Homo sapiens: one gene and its partners. The protein of the gene in region 1 purifies or fractionates together with the protein of each later gene. This does not show direct contact. Each region holds a gene or a part of one and is shown in the gene's direction. Other genes may lie near its edges. The genes, in order: HSPA12A, ARHGAP35, LONP2, ARHGEF10, NCOA7, NFXL1 and PRKAR2A.

Region 1 (3,500 bases):
TTTTACTATGTAGCAAACCACCCCAAAGTTTAATGGGTTAAAACAATAGTCTTTTTAAAAAAATTTATTTTAAGACAAGGTCTTCCTCTGTGACCCAGGCTGGAGAGCAGTGGCGTGATCTTGGCTTATGTAAGCTCTGCTTCCTGGGCTGAAACGATCCTCCCACCTCAGTTTTGTGGGTAGCTGGGACTAAAGGTGCACATCTCCATGCCTGGCTTTTTTTTTTTTTTTAAATAGGGACAAGGTCTCACTATGTTGCCCAGGCTGGTCTCAAACTCCTGGGCTCAAGCAACCCTCCTGCCTCAGCCTCCCAGAGTGCTGAGATTACAGGCATGAGCCACCGTGCCTGGCAACAATAGTCATTTTATGGCTTATGATTCTCTGGGCAGGTCTCTGTTGGGTGGTTGTTTTGGTGGTCTTCCCTGTGGTCACTTATGTGACTGCAACACTCTGATGGCTCAACTAGTCTGGGTAGTCCAAGATGACCTCGCTCACAGGTCTGGGGGTTGGTGCTGGCTGTCGGCTGGGCTTCGTTCTCCACATGGTCTTTTATCCTCTAAGAGGCAAGCTCAGGCTTCTTTATGTGGTGGCCTCAGGACAGCAAGAGGATGAGAGGGGAAGCTGCAAGGCCTCTTGAGGCGTTCCTGGGAAGTCCAATAAAATCACGTCTGCTGTATTCCTGGTGGTCACAGCAAGTCTTGAAGCCAGCTCAGATAGAGGGATGGAGAAATTGCCTTCACCTCTTAGTGAGAGGACCTGCAAAGAATGTGTGGCTATTTTTAATCTAACAGAGTTGGCTTGGCAAAAATGTTGAAACTACAAACTTTAGAAAACTATATTATGCTTTAAAGCAACTTGTAGGTTAGATCTCACTTCTTAAGACGTTCTGCAAGTGCCCAGTGATTGTCTGACACTTACAATTATTTGTTTGTTGTGCTAGAACATGTGTTTCTATAAGTGATAAATGAAGAATGATGGTGGTATTCAGAAAAGTTGTGTTGGCACATTCTCAATTTTTCCCAGTATGTTTGCACTTTGACAGATCAGGATGAACTTTTTTCTTTTTTTTCTTTTCGAGACGGAGTCTCGCTCTGTCGCTCAGGCTGGAGTGCAGCGGCTCGATCTCGGCTCACTGCAAGCTCCGCCTCCCGGGTTCATGCCAGTCTCCTGCCTCAGCCTCCCGAGTAGCTGGGACTACACTCGCCCACCACCACGCCTGGCTAATTTTTGTATTTTTAGTAGAGGCAGGGTTTCACCGTGTTAGCTAGGATGGTCTCGATCTCCTGACCTTGTGATCTGCCCTCCTCGGCCTCCCAAAGTGCTGGGATTACAGGCATGAGCCACCGTGCTCAGCCCAGAATGCACTTTTTTCATGATTGAAGGCTAATATATGAAAAAAGCAAAAAAAAAAAAAAAGCTGAAAATCTGTAGATGCAACTACCTTTAGTGTAAGTCAGGGCTGTTTTAGTATTGTTCCATTCCCCATTCCCTTAAGCTCTGTTGGCAGCTGAGAGGGCAGATGAAGGAGCTGCAAAGACATTGTCCCTATAAGAAAATGATGGGTATGGGTGTGTGGGTGACACCCTGGATGGGTTTTGCTTTTTTTTTTTTTTTTTTTAGACAGAGTCTCGCTCTATTGCCCAAGCTGGAGTATAGTGGTGTGATCTCGGCTCACTGCAGCCTCCACCACCTGGGTTCAAGTGATTCTTCTGCCTCAGCTTCCCGAGTAGCTGGGACTACAGGTGTGTGCCACCATGTCCAGCTAATTTTTGTATTTTTAGTAGAGGCAGAGTTTCACCATGTTGGCCAGGCGGGTCTCAAACTGCCTGTCTTGGTGATCTGCCTGTCTTGGTTTCCCAAAGCTCTGGGATTACAGGTGTGATCTGCCTGTCTTGGTTTCCCAAAGCTCTGGGATTACAGGTGTGAACCACTGTGCCCTGTTGGGTTTTGCATTTTGATGAGAATGGCCCCCTAAGAAGTGAGTGCTCCGTTACTGTTTTTGGAAAGGTTCCGGTAGCAAGGTTCCGCAGGTGTGGAGTGATGTACACCGACCTTGTTTTCCTCATGAATCCTGTTATTTTTAGTGTATGGGTTTGTAGAATGTGAAGATTTGTAGGAAAATATGCTGCATTACAGTGGAAGTGCTTGAACAGATGCTCCTTGACTTACAATAGGGTTACGTCCCTATAAACCCATAAAAACGTTGAAAATATCATAAGTTGAGTCATCCTAAGTTGAGGACTGAGTGTATTTATATTTGATGTGGGATAAGTGTTCATTTAAAAAATATTTGCTCCGATATGGGGTGGAGCCTCAAATAACAGCCAATAGGAAGAGCCTACAGTCACTTCCTATTCAGTCATTTGAAATTTTGAGACTGCTTTGCTTCCCAGATGTTTGCATACTTAGTGGGTAGTTTTGTCAGTTATGTTCAGAATTTTAATGTCAGAAAACAGAGACTCCAGGAGTAAGTTCTGTAGGATGGAGCTCCTGTTTCATCGACCCACTTAGCACCCAAGATCTCAGAGGGAAATGGATTACGCCAGTGCCCTTTGCTTCCTATAAACTGACAATTAAATGATGTCCCTTGGGGCTTCCTATGTTTTGTAAATCAGACCTCGTGATCTTATTGGTTTCTCTGTGATGAGGAACAGTGGTTCCTGTACCCAGGCGGCTGGTTCTGTTTGGGACAGGGAAGCTGTAGGTATTCGGGCTCCAGCCTGCTGCCTCTGAGGCCTCAGGCTGGCCTCTCTTTGCTTGTCTCCCATGTTTCCTTGGGCTGAAGGCTAAACTCCTCTGGCCACTTACTTCCTTTTCTTTCCTTTAGTCATTGTCCCTTAGTGACCATCTCCGCTGGCTGGGATAAGAAACTGTTTACAGCACAACCATCAGGCAGGAGTCTGTGCCCAAAGGACAGATGAAAGTTTCAGAAAACAACTGCTTGTAGTCAGTCCACATGGCTGCTGGACCGATTTGAAGGGATGATGGTTATCAGTTTGGGTGGTGGTTTCCCTGGGCCAGCAGTTAGAAAACAGAGCTCATGGATACATCCACAGCTAGATGGGACCAGGTTGTCTAATGTCTGGACTGGGCCCACCCTCTCATTTTACAGATGGGGAAACTGAAGTCAGGGAGGGGAAGAGACTGCCCCAGGACACTAGGCAAAGCCAGGCTCAGAATCGAGGTCTGCCGACTCCCTCTGCATGCTTTCCAGCTGAACTCCGCAATGGCTACAGAATCCTCCAGCAGTCCCGCCAGCCACTCCCGGTCACTCAGAGACGGCACAAGGATCCAAACCTCCTTGCCGTTAACAAATTCATGACTTGTCCCTCCAGCAGGAGTTACATTTTAAAAAAGTATTTGAAGAATGCTTAACTCAAAGGAATGAAGTGCCAAGTCAAATTGCTGTGAATAAAACACTCTGCAATGGTGGAGCCGCAGGCCCAGCTTTTCTTTTCTAGTCTCTTGTGTGTTCCCTCACTTGACAGTAGTGGTTGCCC
Region 2 (3,500 bases), on another chromosome or scaffold:
TACAATCGGCCCATCACCGAGCCCCCCGGCGCCAGGCCCAGCTCCCCCTCTGCCGTGGCTTCCACCGTCCCCTTCCTCACTTCCACGCCTGTCACAAGTCAGCCGTCGCCCCCACAGTCGCCTCCACCCACCCCCCAGTCCCCAATGCAGCCACTGCTTCCCTCCCAGCTTCAAGCCGAACACACGCTGTGAGCCACCAAGACCTGGGGCGACAGGAGAACCGGTCCTCTCTCTGACGGGGTGGCATTTGGCCTTGAACAAAACCAAGTCCACTGGGGACAGAGGCAGGGGCAAGTGGCTCTCCCCATTACCTTCTCAAGACCTCAGTGGGAGCACCAGCCAATGGTACCATCGGCTGGGCTGCCAGGTACCCTGGGCCTGGCGCTGCAGACCTGAGCTGGCTTGGACCCATTTGAGGACTGAACTAGGCAGGCAATGGCTCCAGTGCCCTCCCTCTGTTCCCTGGACCACCACCCCACGTAGCTGCTCACACCAGCCTCCGGGTGCCTCCCTCTGCTTGTACAGAGCCCATGGTCGGGACAGTGCCCTGGCCTTTGCCGGGGAGGAGGATGCTCTGAGATTCAGGGTGGGGCTGGCAACCCCTGAAGAGAACACTTCCTGTTGGTCTGTCTCTTCCCACCTTCCATCTGCACACACCCCCAAGGTAAGGGTACAGCCCGGCTGGCGGCCTCCTTGGGAACGTGTAGGCCACGGCTCTGCCACCACTAGGTACCTGCTGAGGGCGCTGGCTCTGCAGATCAGAACAACGGAGGATAGCTTTGTGCCTGGACCCAGAGAGTGTGGGACTCCCCGCTTCATCCCCACCGTCCCACTCCACAGCCTTCCCGAAACATTCCCTGGCAAACAAAGGAACACTAGGAGAAAAAATGGAAAAACCCTTCCAGTAATTAAAAAGGAAGAAACCACAGAAAGAAAACTACAGACCTCAAGATTCCACTCTGTGCCCGCCTCTGCCGGGAGGGAGGGAGGCACACAGGTGGAGCTGACCCTCGTCTTTGTGGCAGCAAAACCAGGATGCCTGGAGCTGTGGCCTGAGGGCCTGCTGGGGTCCCACTCACCCACTTAGGTCTAGTCGCTAGATCCCCCGTTTTCCCAAGAAGAGGGTTCGAGCCCTTGGTGGGGACAGCTGGGGAGATGGCAGTGCAGGCTGGAACCTGGGCTGCCCCAGAACACAGTCCATTACGATAGAAACACTAATTGAGCATGTGCGTGGGGTGGGGGTGTGTGTGCACATGTGAGTGTGAGTGTGTGTGGGCGCTTGGTGGGGGGTTGGGGACAGCTGGAAGGTGCCAGGTGCACTTGGGGTTGGGGTTGGTGTGTTGGGTGTTGAAGTGGAATCGTTTCATCCCAGCCATGGAGGCCACCAGCAGGAGTGTTCATGGGGATGTGGGCGAGGTGGGGCACTTTGAAGGAATGGCGGTCTGCTGGTGCCCTCGAAGGGGCATCCTTCCTGGTCTTCGCTGACCCAGAGGCGCTGTGCCTGCATATCATCCACCACCACCCTAGCCCAGCCTTCCCACTGCCCCAGGAAAAGCTCTTCTCCTGGCCACCTCTGCCCCCCAGCACCTCAAACTTGCATGGCTGGGCTGTGGCCTCTGCGGCCAGGAAGCCTGACACTAGGCACCCCCCAGGCGAGAGCTAGTGGGGTGCAGAGGGCCCCATGCCAGACAGCCCTTGGGGCTCGTTGCACTTTAAGAAATAGGATCTGTGGTGTATTCCAGGGGGCCTGATGGACACCTTTCCCGGGCGTCTGCAGCTGCCCTGCCCGTGCCCGCCTGCAGTGGTTGGAGACGGGAGTGGCCCTTCGGCTCCCGAGCTCCCTCTGGGGACGGCTGGCTCACTGTCTCCAGTTCTCAATGGCCAACGAAGGTGCTTGGAAACACCTAACCTTGCAAGTTTTACCGCCTTTTGAGGAACACAAATCGGAGAACAAACCCAGGGTTCAGGCGTGTTTTCTGTGAATGTTGGATGATGAATTTTTGTCTCTTCTGGTGGAGCTGTGCCTGGCCCTGTAGGCCCAGGGTTGGCTGGAAGGTGACATCTGTGTTTCGTTTTAGCTGAGGTTGGCAGAAACGTTCCCAAACTCCCCCAGCCCTGGACCCCAGCAGATGAGGAAACGGCCCCATTTACTGACCCCGCCCCCTTTTCGAGGTTATGCTCACCTGGTCAGCTCCTCACGTAATTGGGGGTGGAGGGAAAGCATGGTGGTGCCCTGGGCCGTCCCTGTGTGAACGCAGGCAAAAGCAGCCCAGTCCCCCTCACTGCTTGAGCTAACACTGCCACCTCTTTTGTGTGAGCACAAAAGCCACGTCCCAAGCCACCTGGCCCGATTCCACAGATGTATGTGCGGCCAGTGACTTCCCCAGGAGTGTGGAGGGGGTGGTGAGGAGGAGCACCTGGGCTCTCTACCCCTCTCCTCACAGAAGTACCTGAAACTAGGTCTGGGGCACTCCCAATGCAGCGCCTTGTCAGCCAAGGTGGGCAGGCAGGGACTGTGGCAGCTTATGTCCAAAGGGAGCCCCCATGCACAGGAAGCCACAGGGTTCCTCTTGTTTCCCCCGCTAACTTCAGCCTCTCATCTGCTGCTCCGGGCTGAGGGACTAGAGGACATCTCGGTCGTTTGAGGGGCATGGCCAGTCGTGGCAGGCCGGCCTTCAGCGTCCGGTCAGGGAAGCGTGCAGCCCAAATGGGCACTTGCATGGGAGCCACAGAGGAGCGTCCCTGGGGATTGTTGGGACCATGCTGCCCCCACTCCCGCTTTTGTTGGGGCTCTAAGTTCTGGAAGGTGTGTGCACAGAGGGTGCTCATGGGACTCGCATGCAGCTCTCAGCACTGGGTGGGAGGGCGTTGGCTTGTCCAGAATGGGGACGTGGGGCAGCCACCCCTGCCCAGCGAGAGCGCAGACACCGTGTGAGGGGACAGCAGCCCTTGGTGCAAAGCCAGAGACTGATCCTGGCTCTGACGGCTGAAGAGGGAAGACCCAAGGCTGGGTGGCGTGGCTCGTGAATCCACTTAGAATTCTTGGCTTGTGTCGCATACTGGGTGTCACGGCACACATTTACTCTGCATTGTCCCCGTCTTTCCCATCGCCTAGCGTTTGGGGAGGAACAGGGAGAGAGCTTCGGGGCGTCTGTCTCCGTGCTCTCCTGCCTCCACCGCCTTGGTTTTGCTTCCTGCTGGAGGCAGGGCACCTGCTGCGACCCAGATTCTTCTGCAGGATGTGTCTGTCTTTGTCACGGTGGACAGAGGGTGACATCATAGGAGCAGCTCGCTGGCCAGAAGGGGATGGGGGCATCCCTGTGCCTCACTCAGCTCCTGCTGCTCTTAGGGAAAGGAGGCCTGGGTCAAGCCAGCATCCCCTTGGTAAAGACCCCCGCAGGCCACCAGGCATTCTGGACACGCACACACACACACACACACACACACACACACAAAACTTCACAGCAGGCCAGCTGCAGTGACTTGTCATCAAGAGTCAC
Region 3 (2,775 bases), on another chromosome or scaffold:
TCTTGGGTATTATGAGTAATGCTATGAACATGGGTGTACACATCTCTCTTGAAGTCCCTTCTTAGGTCCTTTAGGGATACATATCCAGGAGCAGAACTACTAGATCACATATGCTAAGGTCTGAATGTCCCCCCACCAAATTCGTATGTTGAAGCAACCACCAACGTGATAGGTGAGGCTTTAGGAGGTGATTATGTCATGAGAGCTCCATCCTCATTAATGGATTTAGTGCCTTTATAAAGGGGCTCAAGGGAACCAATTACCTCCTTTTTGCCCTTCGATTCCCTTCCACCATATGAGGACACAGCAACAGGCCCCGTCCTAGAAGCTGAGACTGGGCCCTCAATAGATGATACCAGTCTGCCAGCACGCTGATCGTGGGCTTCTCAGTCTTCACAACTATGAGAAATAAATTCGTACTTTTAAATTACCCAGTCTCAGGTATTCTGTTACGGTTAACACAAATGACTAAGACAACAGGATAATTCTGTTTAACTTTTTGAGAACTGCCAAACTTTTCCACCGCAGCTGCACCATTTGACATTCCTTCCAGCAATGCACAAATGTTCCAGTTTCTCCACATCCTTGCCAGCACTCATTTTCTGGGTTTTTTATAATAGCCCTCCAAATGGGTGTGACGTATTTTGATTCTATGTCCCTAATGACTAGTGATGTTGAGCATTTTCTAGCATTGATTTTTAAGATGTTACCCAAAGACCCCTTGTATCAAAATAAGCTGGATTTTTTTATTGAAAATTATTAACTCTAGAAATTTTAGTTTAAACTAGACTTAGGGATATGTGTATTTTACCGGTATTCCACGTTTTATGCATGGGTTTTTAAAACTTCTCAAGTATTAAAACTAAAAGCTTTAGGTGCTTTGCTTATCAAGAAATCCTACACTGTCCACTGGAGACATCCATGTTTTTACTTGGCTCTGCCCCTTTAGTGGTCCCTGTGAACCTTACCTCAAACCATGCATCTGGGGCAGAGATCCTTACTTGCTTGGTGGTTACAAATGCAAATACAGTGAAGAATGTCATCTTTGTGATTGTTCCTGAAATAGTTCACGAGAAATCCATGACCGTAAAGTACTGTGATAGTGATGTCTACCACTGTGAGCTTCCAGTACTAGGTGATTGGTCTGCATTCACAGTGACCAAAATCAGCTATGTGGCCAGGTAATTCACTGCTGAGGGCTTTGGATTTTCCTTTATGAACTACTGAAATGAGGTCAACTTGACTATTACTAAGGGACATTTTGCTACAAAGAATGTTAGTTTTGCCAATTCCCTTTCCAAATCTAAAATTTATTTTAACCAGGATTTTAGATGTAAACATCAAGTAGTTTTGGTTGTTTCAATGAAGTAACATGTTTAAGCTCACATTATTTGAAGTACTTCAGTTCCTATTGCCATGAAAATTGTATCCAGCAGCTAAAAAAAAAAAAAAAAAAAAAGACTACAGTTAGTCATTATCCAATTTGATGATTTATGGTCCAACACTAATGCTCATTTTTTTTGTTTGTTTTACAAACATTTGGTGGATACCACAATGAAAACTGCACTTAAAAAACAAAAATGCTGAAAGAGGAAGGAAATATCAAAAAGGTCTGAATAGACAACAGGCAAATATGGTGAGTGGTCATTGAGATGTTTTAAAAGTTACAGCAAAAGGACTTCTAAAACAATTTTAGGAAAAGCTTTGTCATGAAAATTCATTTCTTTGGAAATACTGTAGTTTGTACTTAATGACACTGTCAGCACATTTCTAGGCAATACAAACTCTTGAGGCTAAATCCTCATCCTGACATGACAGTGCAAGCCTGTCAAAATGTGACCCCAAAACCAGGTGTCCTTTTGCTCCATTATTTATATCTGTAAACCTGTTATTATTTTCAGAATTCAGAAAGGCCTAAGAAAATTACATCTATGATAATAAAGTGTATTTCTTTGTCAAGTTTCTAGAGCTATATAAGGATAGCGAAAATATTTGGTTCAGCAAGACACTGGGGTATCAAGTCAGGCATAATAAGCACTTTATAGCACATCTAGCCTTCCTCATTCCCTTACGCAGTGGACATCATACCCTTTTGTGGAGGAGGGACCAGGCAGAGAAGGTATTTAAATAAAAACTGGTAGATACAGAGTCAGAAGTCAACCCAGGCAGTTAGAATCTACAACCCACACTGTTTGCCACCAAATCTTAGTAGATGCTTGATAAGGAATTTTGTTTGGATGGTGCCATTTTTAGATAAACGTACGTTTCTTTTGGTAAATTCAGGTTAGGATCATAAGCAGTAAACTACCAAATACTCCTTTGTGCTTTGAACATGCACACTGGATGAGTGGGGAGGGGAATGACAAAGCTTCAAACTCCGGGTCTCTGTAACACTCTATCTGTACCTTTCATGTTTAACCTACACAAATACCACAGTCCTGCGTGGTAGTTCACACACACTATTCACCCTGTCGAGTTTCGACATTACTTTTATGTCCATTCTAATGCAGCAGTCACAGACTGACCCCCCAGGTATGTTGGATTTGATCCATTATTTTCTTAATTTGGATTACTTACCAATTCTTCTAATCAGGAGTGTGAATGAAATAGAATTCTACCATTAGTAGAATCACTGCAGATGTTTCTAAATATGAAGAGCTTTTGGGGGTTGGAGGCAGCACACTATTATTTTGGTGAGCTAAGCTATCTACAGCCACTTACATACGTTTGAAGTTTGCAGAAAGGTGGGTCTTAAAATCATACATATTACAATAA
Region 4 (3,108 bases), on another chromosome or scaffold:
CAATTCATATTATCTGTGGTTTTTCAGTGTATTATAATGACTTAATAGACTGTTTAATTGGAATTATCAATTTATATATTTTTCCATTTTTTACCTTAGTAGTCCAAGGAGAATCTTATGTTTTTATATTCTGTTTACTGCCAGAATTAGTTTCCATCATTCCTTTCTGTGTTTTATATTGTGGAGAAGGAAGCCGGGATCTCCGTTGTTCCTTTGTGTGTTTTATATTGTGAAGAAGGAAGCCGGGATCTCCGTCATTCCTTTCTGTATTTTATGTTGTGAAGAAGGAAGCCGGGATCTCCGTCGTTCCTTTCTGTATTTTATATTGTGAAGAAGGAAGCCGGGATCTCCGTCATTCCTTTCTGTATTTTATGTTGTGAAGAAGGAAGCCGGGATCTCCGTCGTTCCTTTCTGTATTTTATGTTGTGAAGAAGGAAGCCGGGATCTCCGTCTTTCCTTTCTGTATTTTATATTGTGAAGAAGGAAGCCGGGGATCCGAAAAGGCTCCATTGTGCTATTGCAATGTCAGTAAGAGCTCAGGCTGGAACACATGGCCTTTCTGGACACAGTCCCGTTAGGGATTGGAGGCCTTAAAACATGCTTGTGTGTCTGGAATCAGGATTCCCAATCCAGGGAATTGGCCCAGGAAACAGCCTAAGCTAGGAACAAAGTATGATGCAAGAAGACATTTGCCACAGCATTTAATTTTTAACAGCACGAAACAGGAGGTGACCCGCAGTTCGTAATGACGGATTGGGCCATTTAATAAAATGGTGGCATTGCCGGTAATGGGTAGAACACAGCCAGCAGAAGTGGTGTGTGCAGAGCCTGCAGTGACGCGGAAAACTCCTCGTCCTGTTAAGTTCAGTAAACCACAGCCTTAGATTCTATGTGGGTTACTATGTCAGCCAGGGGGAAATACTAACAGAGAAAACGCTTTGCAGGAAGCTTGTAGAGCAGAACTGTTCCTACGGGCTCCATTTCTGTGATTTCCTCCCAGGCCGACCTGACGGTGGCTTCCGTGCACTCAGATTTTGGCAGGTCCACCCACAAGGATTAAGGAATTCTAGTTTTGCCATTCATTTCCTAATTTATGTTTTTATTATGATATATGGGATTGTACATGTTGAGGACCCCAAATCCAAAAACAAAATGCGAAATGCTCCAATTTTTTTTTTTTCTTTTTGAGACGTAGTCTCACTCTGGCACCCAGGACGGAGTCCAGTGGCACAGTCTCGGCTCACTGCACCCTCTGCCTGCCAGGTTCAAGCTATTCTCCTGCCTCAGCCTCCCTAGTAGCTGGGATTACAGGCACCAGCCACCATGCCTGGCTAATTTTTGTATTTTTAGTAGAGGTGGGGTTTCATCATGTTGGCCAGGCTGGTCTCGAACTCCTGAACTCAAGTGATTCGCCTGCCTTGGCCTCAGATGCTCCAAATTCTGTGTCGACGTGATGCTGAAAGGCAGTGCTCATTGGAGGAATTCAGATTTTGGATTTCAGATTTGGGATGCTCAACCGGCAAGTGCAATGCAAATATTCCAACATTAAAAAAAAAAATCCAAAACACTTGTGGTCCCAAGAATTTCAGATAAGTGACACTCAGCCTGTAAATACATAGAATTGTGCATAACGCACAGTTTCACAGTTTAAATGGTAACGAGAAGAGGCCACCTGCCTGTGCCCAGGTCAGAAGGGGCTGTGACTCACACACTGAGCCTCAGCTGCCCCTTCTCAGCCTCAGCCCTCTCTGCTCACAACCCTAGGAAATGATGATGCTGAGTTTTACGTCAATTATTCCTTTGGTCCTCCTCTGTAGTTGTACCAATTTGTATCTTAAAGGGTACTTTTCACCTTTCCGGCTTTTGCATTTTCCTAGCTGTCCCATGGTGCAAGCAGCCTCTGTTGCTTTTTCTCTCAGCCTTGCTGGGGTCAGTCCCTGCTGGTGCCACAGCTATAGTGCTTTCCTCTCCCTGCCTGCAGCCTGCCTCTGAAAGGAGGTGCCCTCATTGCCTCTGGATGGATAGCCAGGTGCTCCCTGAAAGGAGGTGCACTCTCACTGTTCCTCTGGAGGATAGCCAGGTGCTCCCTGAAAGGAGGTGCACTCTCACTGTTTTTCTGGATGGGTAGCTAGGTGCTCCCTGAAAGGAGGTGCACTCTCACTGTTCCTCTGGAGGATAGCCAGGTGCTCCCTGAAAGGAGGTGCACTCTCACTGTTCCTCTGGAGGATAGCCAGGTGCTCCCTGAAAGGAGGTGCACTCTCACTGTTTCTCTGGATGGGTAGCCAGGTGCTTCCTGAAAGGAGGTGCACTCTCACTGTTCCTCTGGAGGATAGCCAGGTGCATCCTGGAAGGAGGCACACTCTCACAGTTTCTCTGGATGGGTAGCTAGGTGCTCCCTAAAAGGAGGTGCACTCACTGTGTTTCTCTGGATGGGTAGCTAGGTGCTCCCTGAAAGGAGGTGTACTCTCACTGTTTCTCTGGATGGGTAGCTAGGTGCTCCCTGAAAGGAGGTGCACTCTCACTGTTTCTCTGGATGGGTAGCTAGGAGCATCCTGAAAGGAAGTGCACTCTCACTGTTTCTCTGGATGGGTAGCTAGGAGCATCCTGAAAGGAGGTGCACTCTCACTGTTTCTCTGGATGGGTAGCTAGGTGCATCCTGAAAGGAGGTGCACTCTCACTGTTTCTCTGGATGGGTAGCGAGGTGCTTCCTGAAAGGAGGTGCACTCTCACTGTTTCTCTGGATGGGTAGCTAGGTGCTTCCTGAAAGGACGTGCACTCACTGTGTTTCTTTGGATGGTAGCTAGGTGCTACCCATTTGCATTACACATCAAGCCTCTGTATATTTGTGTGGCTGGCTCTGCTGACATGGGCAGAAGCTCCTTCTGGGGGCTTGCCCAGGGGCAGCATCGCTGGTGTGCAGGGATCACAGGTGTGTGCTTCGCCAGGTGATGAGCGGGCCTGTCCCTGCACAGTCCCCCCAGCTCCTGCTCCCTGCAGACTTCACTTTGCCACTCTCCTCTTTGGGAAATGGACTCTCACCACGGTGGAAGATTCAGTGATGTCATTTGCCTTGGCCAGAGTAGGATGATGGTGAGGGCTGGGGCCTGT
Region 5 (3,500 bases), on another chromosome or scaffold:
GTAGCTACTAAGTCAACGAGCTTTTCAAAATTAATGTAGTTGTTTTCTACACTATTTGATAAAAAGGAAAATGTTTGCACATTTAAGGAATTTTAGACATTGGTACTAAAATATTTCCTCTCCTTTATCCTTTCCTTCATGAAAGTCAGAAACATTATTATTTCATATTTAGAAATCTTATGGGTAACATCTTCATGTTCATGTATAACTTCCAATTCCATCATGTGCTTCCAGTAGGATATGCAACTCTCATGGTTCATTCTTTCTCCATTTCCTTTAGTTGACCTATGTTTTATTTTGAAATCAATTTCTTGATTTTATTTTTTTATTCTGAAATCATTTGAACATAAATTTAAGTTGTGATATATTTATGTATTGGTTTTTGGTTGAGTTTCTGTTTTGTTTTTTGCCTTTCCTCCATTTTGTTTTTGGTTTTATTTTTAACATTCCATGTGCACCCACCATTTCTCCCCCAACAGTGACCTACCTCAGGATCTTTGTCCTCTGTACAGGCCTGGAGAATGGGAAGACCTGGCTTCAGAAAAGGATATCAACCCATTCAGTAAGTTCAAATCTATCAACAAGGAAAAACGACAGCAGAATGGAGAGAAAATTATGACTTCGGATTCCAGACCAATAGTACCTTTGGAGAAGTCCACAGGACATACACCTACAAAGCCCTCAGGCAGCTCTGTGTCAGAGAAATTAAAGAAACTGGACTCCTCTAGGGAGACATCCCATGGTTCTCCCACAGTGACTAAGCTCAGCAAGGAACCTTCCGACACTTCTTCTGCATTTGAATCTACAGCCAAAGAAAACTTTCTAGGGGAAGATGATGATTTTGTTGACTTGGAAGAACTTTCTTCTCAAACTGGTGGTGGAATGCACAAAAAAGACACCTTGAAGGAGTGCCTTTCTCTTGACCCAGAGGAACGAAAGAAAGCTGAGTCACAAATAAACAATTCTGCCGTGGAAATGCAGGTGCAGTCAGCCCTAGCCTTTTTGGGAACAGAGAATGATGTTGAACTGAAGGGGGCGCTAGATTTAGAAACCTGTGAGAAGCAAGATATAATGCCAGAAGTGGACAAGCAGTCTGGTTCGCCAGAAAGCCGAGTAGAAAACACACTGAACATACATGAAGATTTAGATAAAGTTAAACTCATTGAATATTACCTGACTAAGAACAAAGAAGGGCCACAGGTATCTGAAAATTTGCAGAAAACAGAATTAAGTGATGGAAAAAGTATTGAACCAGGGGGAATAGACATTACCCTTAGTAGTTCTCTTTCCCAGGCGGGTGATCCCATAACTGAGGGCAATAAAGAGCCAGATAAGACCTGGGTGAAAAAGGGAGAGCCCCTCCCGGTAAAACTGAACTCTTCTACAGAAGCAAATGTGATTAAAGAGGCTCTAGACTCCTCTTTGGAATCTACTCTGGACAACAGCTGTCAAGGTGCACAAATGGATAATAAATCTGAAGTTCAGTTGTGGCTGTTAAAGAGAATTCAGGTACCCATTGAAGGTAAGCTGTTTTTCTTTAATGCCTTTATATTCTGTTGCATAATTGCCTTTCTACAATTTGCACATGTAATACCCACATTAGTACATTTATTTGAAAACAGTATTTTCTCAATAGAGTGTATCTTTGCTGATAGCATTAACAATTGGGGAGAAAATTTACAAGATATGGTATCTATTTTGGAACTTGGACTGTGACATAGATCTCTAGATACCTACTTCAAAAGTCGTTTACTTTTAATCTTTCAAGTTACTTTCCTTTTTTACCTTTATTTTCTAAATCTAGAGGAGTTTAAACTGTTTTTGAAGAAATCTCAATTCTAAACTGAATTGCATTATGTTATATTGTGTTCTCAGTAGCATTCATTAATATGTATTCCTGTGAATTGTCCCAATTCTCTATTATTTGCTATTCTATTGGTTTTTAAACTTATTTTCAGTATGTAGCAGCTCATGGGATGTAGTTCAACCTGAAACAACCAAAGCTTTTTCCTTGTGTGCTAAAGAAGGCTTGAAAAATTTATTAGTCCTGATACGATGTTGTAGGATGTTTCTGCAATGTTTTGACTAAGAGAGGATTGTGCACTATTTTTTTTAAGTTGAAAAATTCTGCTATTACCAATATTGTCAATATTGAGGAACAGTTTTTTCGTGTGTGATTCAGATATACTTCCTTCAAAAGAAGAAAAAAGCAAGACCCCACCCATGTTCCTGTGCATCAAAGTGGGAAAACCAATGAGAAAATCCTTTGCCACTCACACTGCAGCCATGGTCCAGCAGTACGGCAAACGGAGAAAGCAGCCAGAGTACTGGTTTGCTGTTCCTCGGGAGAGGTGAGTATGGGCTACAATGGAAAGTCTGTGGGTCTGTTAGGTTTGGATGGCGTTTTGATATTCTTTATCTTAAAATACTTAATTTTATTCTTGAATAAGAGCTTTATCTGAATTGTAGATTTTAGAATTCTAGAAGGATATTATTTAAAGGGACTTTCTGCTAAATGGTGGTTTTAATATAACAAATATGGAGTCATCATAGGTACTATGTCCTGAACTGCTTTCATAACTTTCTACCTAGTTGATTTTTAAATGAAAGAAGAATTTGATGTTCTCAAGTACCAGTAATTAGAAGTGCTCTTTCATTGAGGATAAAGGAATACTATGGAGCAGATCCAAACACCTCTTAAGTGCAAGAAAGAGGCAGGATTATAATTTTCAAAGTGCTTATAATTCTAGGGAATGAAAGATTTATTGTCCTTATGGAGGGAGCATCTGTAGCTCAGCAGCATAAGAAATGTGATCCCCTGGATAGTCTCAAGGGTTGTATACTCCTATAAAAAATTATATTTTCAATTCACCAAAGAAGATACCTTCTTGGTTATGTGGCAGTCTAGGATAGGAGGGATAGTGGCATAGAAATTCTTCAACAGTATATCACTGAGGATGTCTTTATAATAAAAATAATTAGGGAATATTCTTTTTAGAAAACAATTAATTGCTTTTATTTCATATATGTGGTAGAATAAAAATGTCTTATAAAGTCCTTGCACTTAGTTTTCAACACTGTTAAAACCATGCATCTTGCCCCTTAAAAACATCATCATCTAGCCAGATATTCTGGCTAACACACCTGCCAAGAGCAAATACACTCAGCAAGCTTCCATAGCATGATTTCTCAGTAAACAAAATTAAATTCTAAGCAAGAGTGCACCTTCTGGCTGACTACTACCTAGAATGATCATTCTTATTGGGAGAGTTGTCTCATTTTAATAAATTATAGTTTAATGTGAAAAATAATAGGCTTTTTATTAATGAATTTGCTAATAGCTTTTACCTGCCTTAGACACAAACCCACATTAACCCAGGCATTAAACATAACTTGTTTTGCATTTATGTAATATACTCCATCACCTGTGCCTGCAGCCCCCACAGCATCTCCTGGAAATTTAGGGATATTGAGGAGAATGAGGAGAAAATGTGTCTCTT
Region 6 (3,500 bases), on another chromosome or scaffold:
CATATGGTTTCCATTACCGCTCCAGCTTTCATCATATCCAGGACATGGGGAAGAGAAGAACATGGAAGTATACTCTTGAAATGATCTGAAGCATGAATCACCTGTACTTGCTTACATTCCATTGACCAGAACTCAGTTATATGGCTATAACTAGCTACAAGGGTGGCTGTAAGATGTACTGTTGGAATGGAGCTGGGGAGAATAATTAAATATAATTAAATTATATATATATAATTAAATTATATAAGTGTAATTAAAATAATTTATATCTAAAAGAAAAATAGTTTACAAATTATCCCATTAGCTAGGATTGATTGACCCTTTGTGTGATGGACTCTCTTAAAATTGTTGGGGTATGGGGGAAACTAGAGTATGATCAAGATGTAAGTATGTAATTGCTTTATTTTGATTTTATTTTAGCTTCCTTGTGGTCATAGATGCAAAGAGATGTGTCATCCTGGTGAATGTCCCTTTAACTGCAACCAGAAGGTAAAACTTAGATGTCCTTGTAAAAGAATAAAAAAGGTAAATATTTTAAGTTATTGAAAATACTTTTCTATATAAGTTGTTTTTGTGTGGTTTTCTTGTTCTTGTTTTTTGATCTATGTGTTTTGGTAGTTGTTTGGCTTTTTTTTTTTTTTTTGCCTTTTAATTTTGAGGTTTTACTTCATAGAACTTTTTTATTATTGAAATGAGCCTACTAGTTCTTTAAACATTTATTTTAAACATAAGCTTTGGCGATTTAATTTTCTGCAATTTAACAGTAAAAGGAAAATTATTTTTTATGTTGGAACCAAATTCAATGCCCTGTTTTGGTCAATGTGCTTTAGATTTGAGGTCTTTGAACAAGGAACACAATGTAACGGGTAGAATGTTTCATTGCTTAAGAAATGGCTTGAGATTAACTTTGTTGCTGTTATTTATGAAATTCTTTTTACCATCAGTATTGTCCTTTGAAAATATTGCCTTAAAAAGACCTCATATGAATAGCCTTATAAAGTAAAATAACATGTAAACTTGGAAAGAACTAATTTTAAGATAAAATGATGGTAACAGAGGAGTAAATGGGCAAAAACTAATGATTACAAAGCCTGATGGAAACAAACTATATACTGCTCAACAAAACTTATGAAGGAAAATATACTGTCCTAATAGTCTTTTTCTCAATTCTCTGTTTCCTTGATCTTCCCTGTTGGCAGTGCTTACTCCTTTGAAACCAACTTTTTTGACCTCTGATTTACCCTATCTCAGTTATAGTCGTAACTCCTTTTTTTTCCTTCATATTCCTATTGTCATTCCCTAAAGCTTGTCTTTTTTGTCTCTTGAAATTCGCTTTTATTCATCCATGTGATGGATATGTATTGAGGATCTTTTATAGGTCCTTTGCCTTTCATTTATGTTCATAGTTTCTGATATGTTTTCCTAGGATAGGGAACTTCTGAATTTAAATTTATACACTTGGCCTTTTAGGGAGTGGAATCTTTAAGTTTTAGATATTTAAATTGACCCCCTGTACCTGAAAATAAATACTTGGTCAAGCCATTTTTAATGTGAGATGTCTCTTAAGTTTTCTCTGAAATCTCATGTCTTGTCCAAGTGCCATATGCCACCCACCCGTTAGTACTTTGGAACAACTCTTTTCTGGGCTTTGGCCACAACTTCGTGACCCATTTCCTTGTCTCTAGTCACACCACTTCCCTGTTCTAAATTCTTCAATGGCTCTTCATCACTTATGGAAAAAGTGCATTGTATAAAAAATGTGTATGTGTAGGTATATGCAGACTCGGCATACCAGGGAGGCTATGATAAGACATTTGCCTGCTTGTTCAGTCTCGTCATCTAGCAATCATCTCTGTGAATCTGTTACTTAAGTGCCCTAATACATATATTGTACCCTCGCTTAGCTTAGGCTGTGGCAATGTATATATATTTTTTTCCTGTGTAAAATACAATATGTTTTTCCTTTAGCTCTCTGCTTACTAGAATCCTGCTAATACTTATTGGAAGCACTTCCTTGTTTGAGAAGGTTTTCCTTCCCCAGGTTCCCTTGGGAAGGCTTAGCTGTTCCTTCCTCTTGACTTTCTTTGTACTGGGTTCATAATGTAGAGCTTTGTGATTCTAGGTATCTGTAACCTTGTTTCCTCATCTGTAAAATAGAGTTTATAGAGATTTATTGAAAGGAATAAAAGAGGTAGTGCTTACATAGCATTTAAAACAATGCTATGTTTAATAAATAGTAGCTGCCATTACTATAAAAGAGGTAGTGCTTACATAGCATTTAAAACAATGCTATGTGTAATAAATAGTAGCTGCAATTACTATTGTTATTTATTTAGCACTTAACAGATGATTATACTGTTTATTTCTTACTGTGTTCCATTTCCCTGTCATGGTGTTTAGCATGTTATAGGCACTCTGTAAGTATCCTCTGAATGAGAAAAGATAAAATCCTCTTCTAAGCTGATGGACTTAATGTCTATAAACACACGATACTTATTTTTGTCTCCAGTGTTTGTTCATGTTAATTTTCTTATGTCTGGACTGTCTTTGGAGGACAAGACTATGTTTATCACTAAATCAAGCCAAAAATGAAGAACTAAGGAATAAAAAAAAAAAAACCCTCCAAGTAATAAAATTCCATGCCATAAAATGCTTTTACTAAATGCACTTTACTCAGGATTTGGTAATCTCATGTCTAAGCTGTGGTAGATTTGAACAAAAAACTAGAGTCTGAGGGTCTGGTGAGACAGGAGAAACTGATACAAATTAAATATACTGAGAGTAAAAGTGACATTGGCAGCAATAAATGAATGAATAAAAGATAGATGTACTACAAAAGGCAGTCTAAAACTAATATAAAGACCACTCTTCAACTCAGTAGGTCATCGTTTTATTCTGTCGTAGTACAGAAATTGGTCATAGTTTTGATGTCAAGACATCAAAAACAGTAGATCAGTGTTCTTTCATTAAGGAGGTAGTGAAGTGCCAACATAAGCTTTAGAACAATTTTCATCTAAACTTAAAAAAAGTTTAACAGTCGAGAGAAAAATTTGTAGCTCCCCAGAAAACTCTCTAGAGCTGCACTATCTGAGATGGTAGCCACTAGTCACATGTGGATATTTAAATGCAAATTGTAATGAATTAGCATAAAACAGTATTAAAAATTTGGTTCCTCATTTTCACTACCCACATTTCAAGTGCTCAGTAGCCATATGTGGCTAGTGCTACTCTGTGGACTAATGCAGATTTACAACATTCCATCCCACGCACATACCAGGAAGCTCTGTTGGACAGCACATTTGTAGAACATTGTATTCCCTGGACACTTTGCAAGAATAACAAACAATAAAGAAAAGTAAAGAATAAAAACAACATGGGAGCTAAGTCCAATAGTGGCACATAGTAATTATTAAGTTGATTTTTAAAAATTTTATGGTATTCTCTTTTTTAAGTTAAGAGAAAATAAGCAAGTAATCACTATTTGAAGCAGATATTTAATG
Region 7 (3,500 bases), on another chromosome or scaffold:
CACCACACCTGTCTTTTTGTTGTTGTTGTTGTTGAGACAGAGTCTCACTATGTTGCTCAGGCTGGTCTTGAACTTCTGGGCTCAAGCAGTCCTCCTGCCTTGGCCTCCCAAAGTGCTGGAATTACAGGCATGAGCCACTGTGCCCAGCCAAATAACACATTCTTTCTTTTTTTTCTTTTTTGAGATGATCTTGGCTCACTGCAACCTCTGCCTCCTGGGTTCAAGCGATTCTCCTACCTCGGCCTCCTGAGTAGCTGGGATTACAGACGTGTGCACATGTGCCACCACGCCCAGCCAATTTTTGTATTTTTAGTAGAAATGGAGTTTCACCATGTTGGCCAGGCTGGTCTCGAACTCCTGACCTCAGGTGATCTGCCCACCTCGGCCTCCCAAAGTGCTGGGATTACAGGCAAGAGCCACCGCACCCGGCCAAATAACCCATTCTTGGATAATCTCTAAGACCAAGTCTCAATGAAAATTGAAAACTGTATATTGAGCTGTAAAACCACCTGCTTTGTGGCTGGGGTATGAGGATTAAATACATGGGCATAAGAGAAGTGACTCCCTTAGTGCCTGGTACAAGGTGGGTGTTCACAGAATGATGGCACAAGCTCCCCATGGCCATGGTGCTACTCACCACCCTTCTTTTCCTGAGACTTCCTTTCCTAAGACTCCTATTCTTTCTATTTCCTTGCCTTTGGCAGTCATTTCCTCTTCTCCTTGCTTTCTTAGGTCAGTGACCTATCAAGATATCCTTTTGGCCTCTACTTTTCTCCTGTTAATTGACTTGCTTTGCAAGCCCAGACTCTTCCAAAGCTTCAATACCACCTCTAGGAAAGTAACTCACAGAAGGTCCTCTCCAGCCTGACTTCTTCTTTGGCCTTGGAAATGCCTTCTGAGGTTGAAGTAGGGAGGATCTGGTGTCGTCACTGAGTTTTTCAAGTTGGATCCTACATTCCTGCTTTTATAATGGGCAGCTGCCATCACGGCCCCTATACGTAGTCTCTTTTGCTTTCTCTTGCTTTATTGAAAGTCAATAGAAGGTTTCCTGGGAAATTCCTGCAGTCACAGGAGAGAGTAGCACTCCTTTTCTCTTTTGAACTTCAGGGGTGTTTGCTTGCCTCTGACCACTTGCTGCCTGTGGGAATTTCCTCTTCACTGCTCGATTGGATGCTCATCAAAGGCTATGTTGATGTCTGGTGCTTTTTTTATATTCTCCACAGCCATGGGAACTGGCCTTGCACCACATGAAAAGAGAGTTTTGGGAAGTGTTAAAGCATGCGTAAAAAGGGGTAGAACCAGCTGGGTGTGGTGACTCATGATGTAATCCCAGTACTTTGGGAGGCCACGGTGGGCAAATCACATGAGCCTAGGAATTCAAGACCAGCATGGGCAACGTGGTGAAACCCTGTCTCTATGAAAAATAAGAAATTAGCTGATGTGGCGGCACATGCCTGTAGTCCCAGCTACTTGGGACGCTGAGTTGGGAGGATCACCTGGGCCTAAGAGGTCAAGGCTGCAGTGAGCTGTGATCATGCCACTACACTCCAGCCTGCTGAGTGACAGAGTGAGACTCTGTCTCAAAAAAAAAAAGTCGCTTGCCGGGCGTAGTGGCTCGTGCCTGTAATCCCAGCACTTCGGAGGCCAAGGTGGGCAGATCACCTGAGGTCAGGAGTTGGAGACCAGCCTGACAAACATGGAGAAACCCTGTCTCTACTAAAAAATACAAAATTAGCTGGGCATGGTGGCGCATGCCTATAATCCTAGCTACTCTGGAAGCCAAGGCAGGAGAATCACTTGAACCTGGGAGACGGAGGTTGCGGTGAGGCAAGATTGCGCCATTGCACTCCAACCTGGTCAACAAGAACGAAACTCCATCTCAAAAAAAAAAAAAGTCGCTGTAAGAGATATTTGTTGTGGTCGGGCACAGTGGCTCACGCCTGTAATACCAGCACTTTGGGAGGCCAAGGCGGGCGGATCATGAGGTCAGGAGATTGAGACCATCCTGGCTAACACGGTGAAACCCCGTCTCTACTAAAAATACAAAAAATTAGCCGGGCGCGGTGGCAGGCGCCTGTAGCCCCAGCTACTCAGGAGGCTGAAGCAGGAGAATGGCGTGAACCAGGGAGGCGGAGCTTGCAGTGAGCCGAGATTGTGCCACTGCACTCCAGCCTGGGTGGCAGAGCGAGACTCTGTCTCAAAAAAGAAAAAAAAAAAGAAAGATATTTGTTGTTTTCTCTTTAGTTAGAAATCTGTTGTTGTTGTTGTTGTTTTTGAGATGGACTCTTGCTCTGTCATCCAGGCTGGAGTCCAGTGGCATTATCTCGGCTCACTGCAACCTCCGCCTCCAGGATTCAAGCAATTCTCCTGCCTCAGCCTCCTGCATAGCTGGGATTATAGGCATGTGCCAACAGTACTGGCTAATTTTTTATATTTTTGGTAGAGATGGGAATTCACCATGTTGGCTAGGCTGGTTTCGAACTCCTGACCTCAAGTGATCCACCCACCTCAGCCTCCCAAAGTGCTGGGATTACAGGCGTGAGCCATGCGCCCAGCCGAAATATTGTTTGCTATTGCAATTGTACTAATCTTTGTTACACTGTAGGTGGATTTGTAAAATATTGGGAGTTAACTTTGCTGCCCTCTGTGTATTTTTTAATATTTATTTATTTATTTATTTTGAGACGGAGTCTCTGTTGCCCAGGCTGGAGTATAGTGGTGTGATCTCGGCTCACTGCATCCTCTGCCTCCAGGGTTCAAGTAATTCTCATGCCTCAGCCTCCCAAGTAGCTGGGACTATAGGTGTACACCACCATGCCCAGCTAATTTTTGTATTTGTAGTAGACACGAGATTTCACCATGTTGGCCAGGCTGGTCTCGAACTCCTGACCTCAAGTGATCCACCCACTTTGGCCTCCCAAAATGCTGGGATTATAGGTGTGAGCCACTGTGCCAGGCCTTTTATTTTATCTATCTATGTATCTATGTATGTGTGTGTGTGTGTCTGTCTGTCTGTCTCTCTGTCTGTCTATATCTATCTATCTATCTATCTATCTATCTATCTATCTATCTATCTATCTTTTGAGACGGTCTCACTCTGTTGGCCAGGCTGGAGTGCAGTGGTGCTCTCACACCTCACTGCAACTTCGCCTCCCAGGGCTCAAGCAATCCTCCCACCTCTGCCTCCCCAGTAACTGGGACCACAAGTGCACGCCACCACGCCTGGCTAATTTTTGTATTTTTTGTACAGATGGGTTTCGCCATGTTGCCCAGGCTGTTCTCAAACTTCTGGGCTCAAACAATCCACCCACCTCCCCACCTCAGCCTCCCAAAGTGCTGGGAATACAGTCGTGAGCCACTGTTCCCAGCCTGTATGGGTTTTTTTTAAATAAATAAATAAAATATTGGGGTTTTCTGTTTTTGTGGGGTTTTTTTGTTTGTTTTTTTTTTTGAGATGGAGTCTCGCTCTGTCTCCCAGGCTAGAGTGCAGTGGTGTGATC

The links.
Region 2: the proteins of HSPA12A (region 1) and ARHGAP35 purify together in Homo sapiens (affinity purification with mass spectrometry; one large-scale study listed by BioGRID and IntAct). This does not show direct contact.
Region 3: the proteins of HSPA12A (region 1) and LONP2 purify together in Homo sapiens (affinity purification with mass spectrometry; one large-scale study listed by BioGRID and IntAct). This does not show direct contact.
Region 4: the proteins of HSPA12A (region 1) and ARHGEF10 purify together in Homo sapiens (affinity purification with mass spectrometry; one large-scale study listed by BioGRID and IntAct). This does not show direct contact.
Region 5: the proteins of HSPA12A (region 1) and NCOA7 purify together in Homo sapiens (affinity purification with mass spectrometry; one large-scale study listed by BioGRID and IntAct). This does not show direct contact.
Region 6: the proteins of HSPA12A (region 1) and NFXL1 purify together in Homo sapiens (affinity purification with mass spectrometry; one large-scale study listed by BioGRID and IntAct). This does not show direct contact.
Region 7: the proteins of HSPA12A (region 1) and PRKAR2A purify together in Homo sapiens (affinity purification with mass spectrometry; one large-scale study listed by BioGRID and IntAct). This does not show direct contact.

Annotation. Positions count from the first base shown.
Region 1 is NC_000010.11:116,732,567-116,736,066, reverse strand, and holds part of HSPA12A (heat shock 70 kDa protein 12A), read left to right. Parts: intron 1-3,500. UniProt on the Homo sapiens protein: Adapter protein for SORL1, but not SORT1. Delays SORL1 internalization and affects SORL1 subcellular localization.
Region 2 is NC_000019.10:47,000,497-47,003,996, forward strand, and holds part of ARHGAP35 (rho GTPase-activating protein 35), read left to right. Parts: coding exon 1-192; 3' UTR 193-3,500.
Region 3 is NC_000016.10:48,355,075-48,357,849, forward strand, and holds the end of LONP2 (lon protease homolog 2, peroxisomal), read left to right. Parts: 3' UTR 1-1,590; coding exon of another isoform or gene 1,591-1,636; 3' UTR 1,637-2,275; downstream 2,276-2,775. UniProt on the Homo sapiens protein: ATP-dependent serine protease that mediates the selective degradation of misfolded and unassembled polypeptides in the peroxisomal matrix.
Region 4 is NC_000008.11:1,952,926-1,956,033, forward strand, and holds part of ARHGEF10 (rho guanine nucleotide exchange factor 10), read left to right. Parts: intron 1-3,108. UniProt on the Homo sapiens protein: May play a role in developmental myelination of peripheral nerves.
Region 5 is NC_000006.12:125,888,460-125,891,959, forward strand, and holds part of NCOA7 (nuclear receptor coactivator 7), read left to right. Parts: intron 1-479; coding exon 480-1,522; intron 1,523-2,182; coding exon 2,183-2,351; intron 2,352-3,500. UniProt on the Homo sapiens protein: Enhances the transcriptional activities of several nuclear receptors. Involved in the coactivation of different nuclear receptors, such as ESR1, THRB, PPARG and RARA.
Region 6 is NC_000004.12:47,852,084-47,855,583, reverse strand, and holds part of NFXL1 (NF-X1-type zinc finger protein NFXL1), read left to right. Parts: intron 1-420; coding exon 421-525; intron 526-3,500.
Region 7 is NC_000003.12:48,767,875-48,771,374, reverse strand, and holds part of PRKAR2A (cAMP-dependent protein kinase type II-alpha regulatory subunit), read left to right. Parts: intron 1-3,500. UniProt on the Homo sapiens protein: Regulatory subunit of the cAMP-dependent protein kinases involved in cAMP signaling in cells. Type II regulatory chains mediate membrane association by binding to anchoring proteins, including the MAP2 kinase.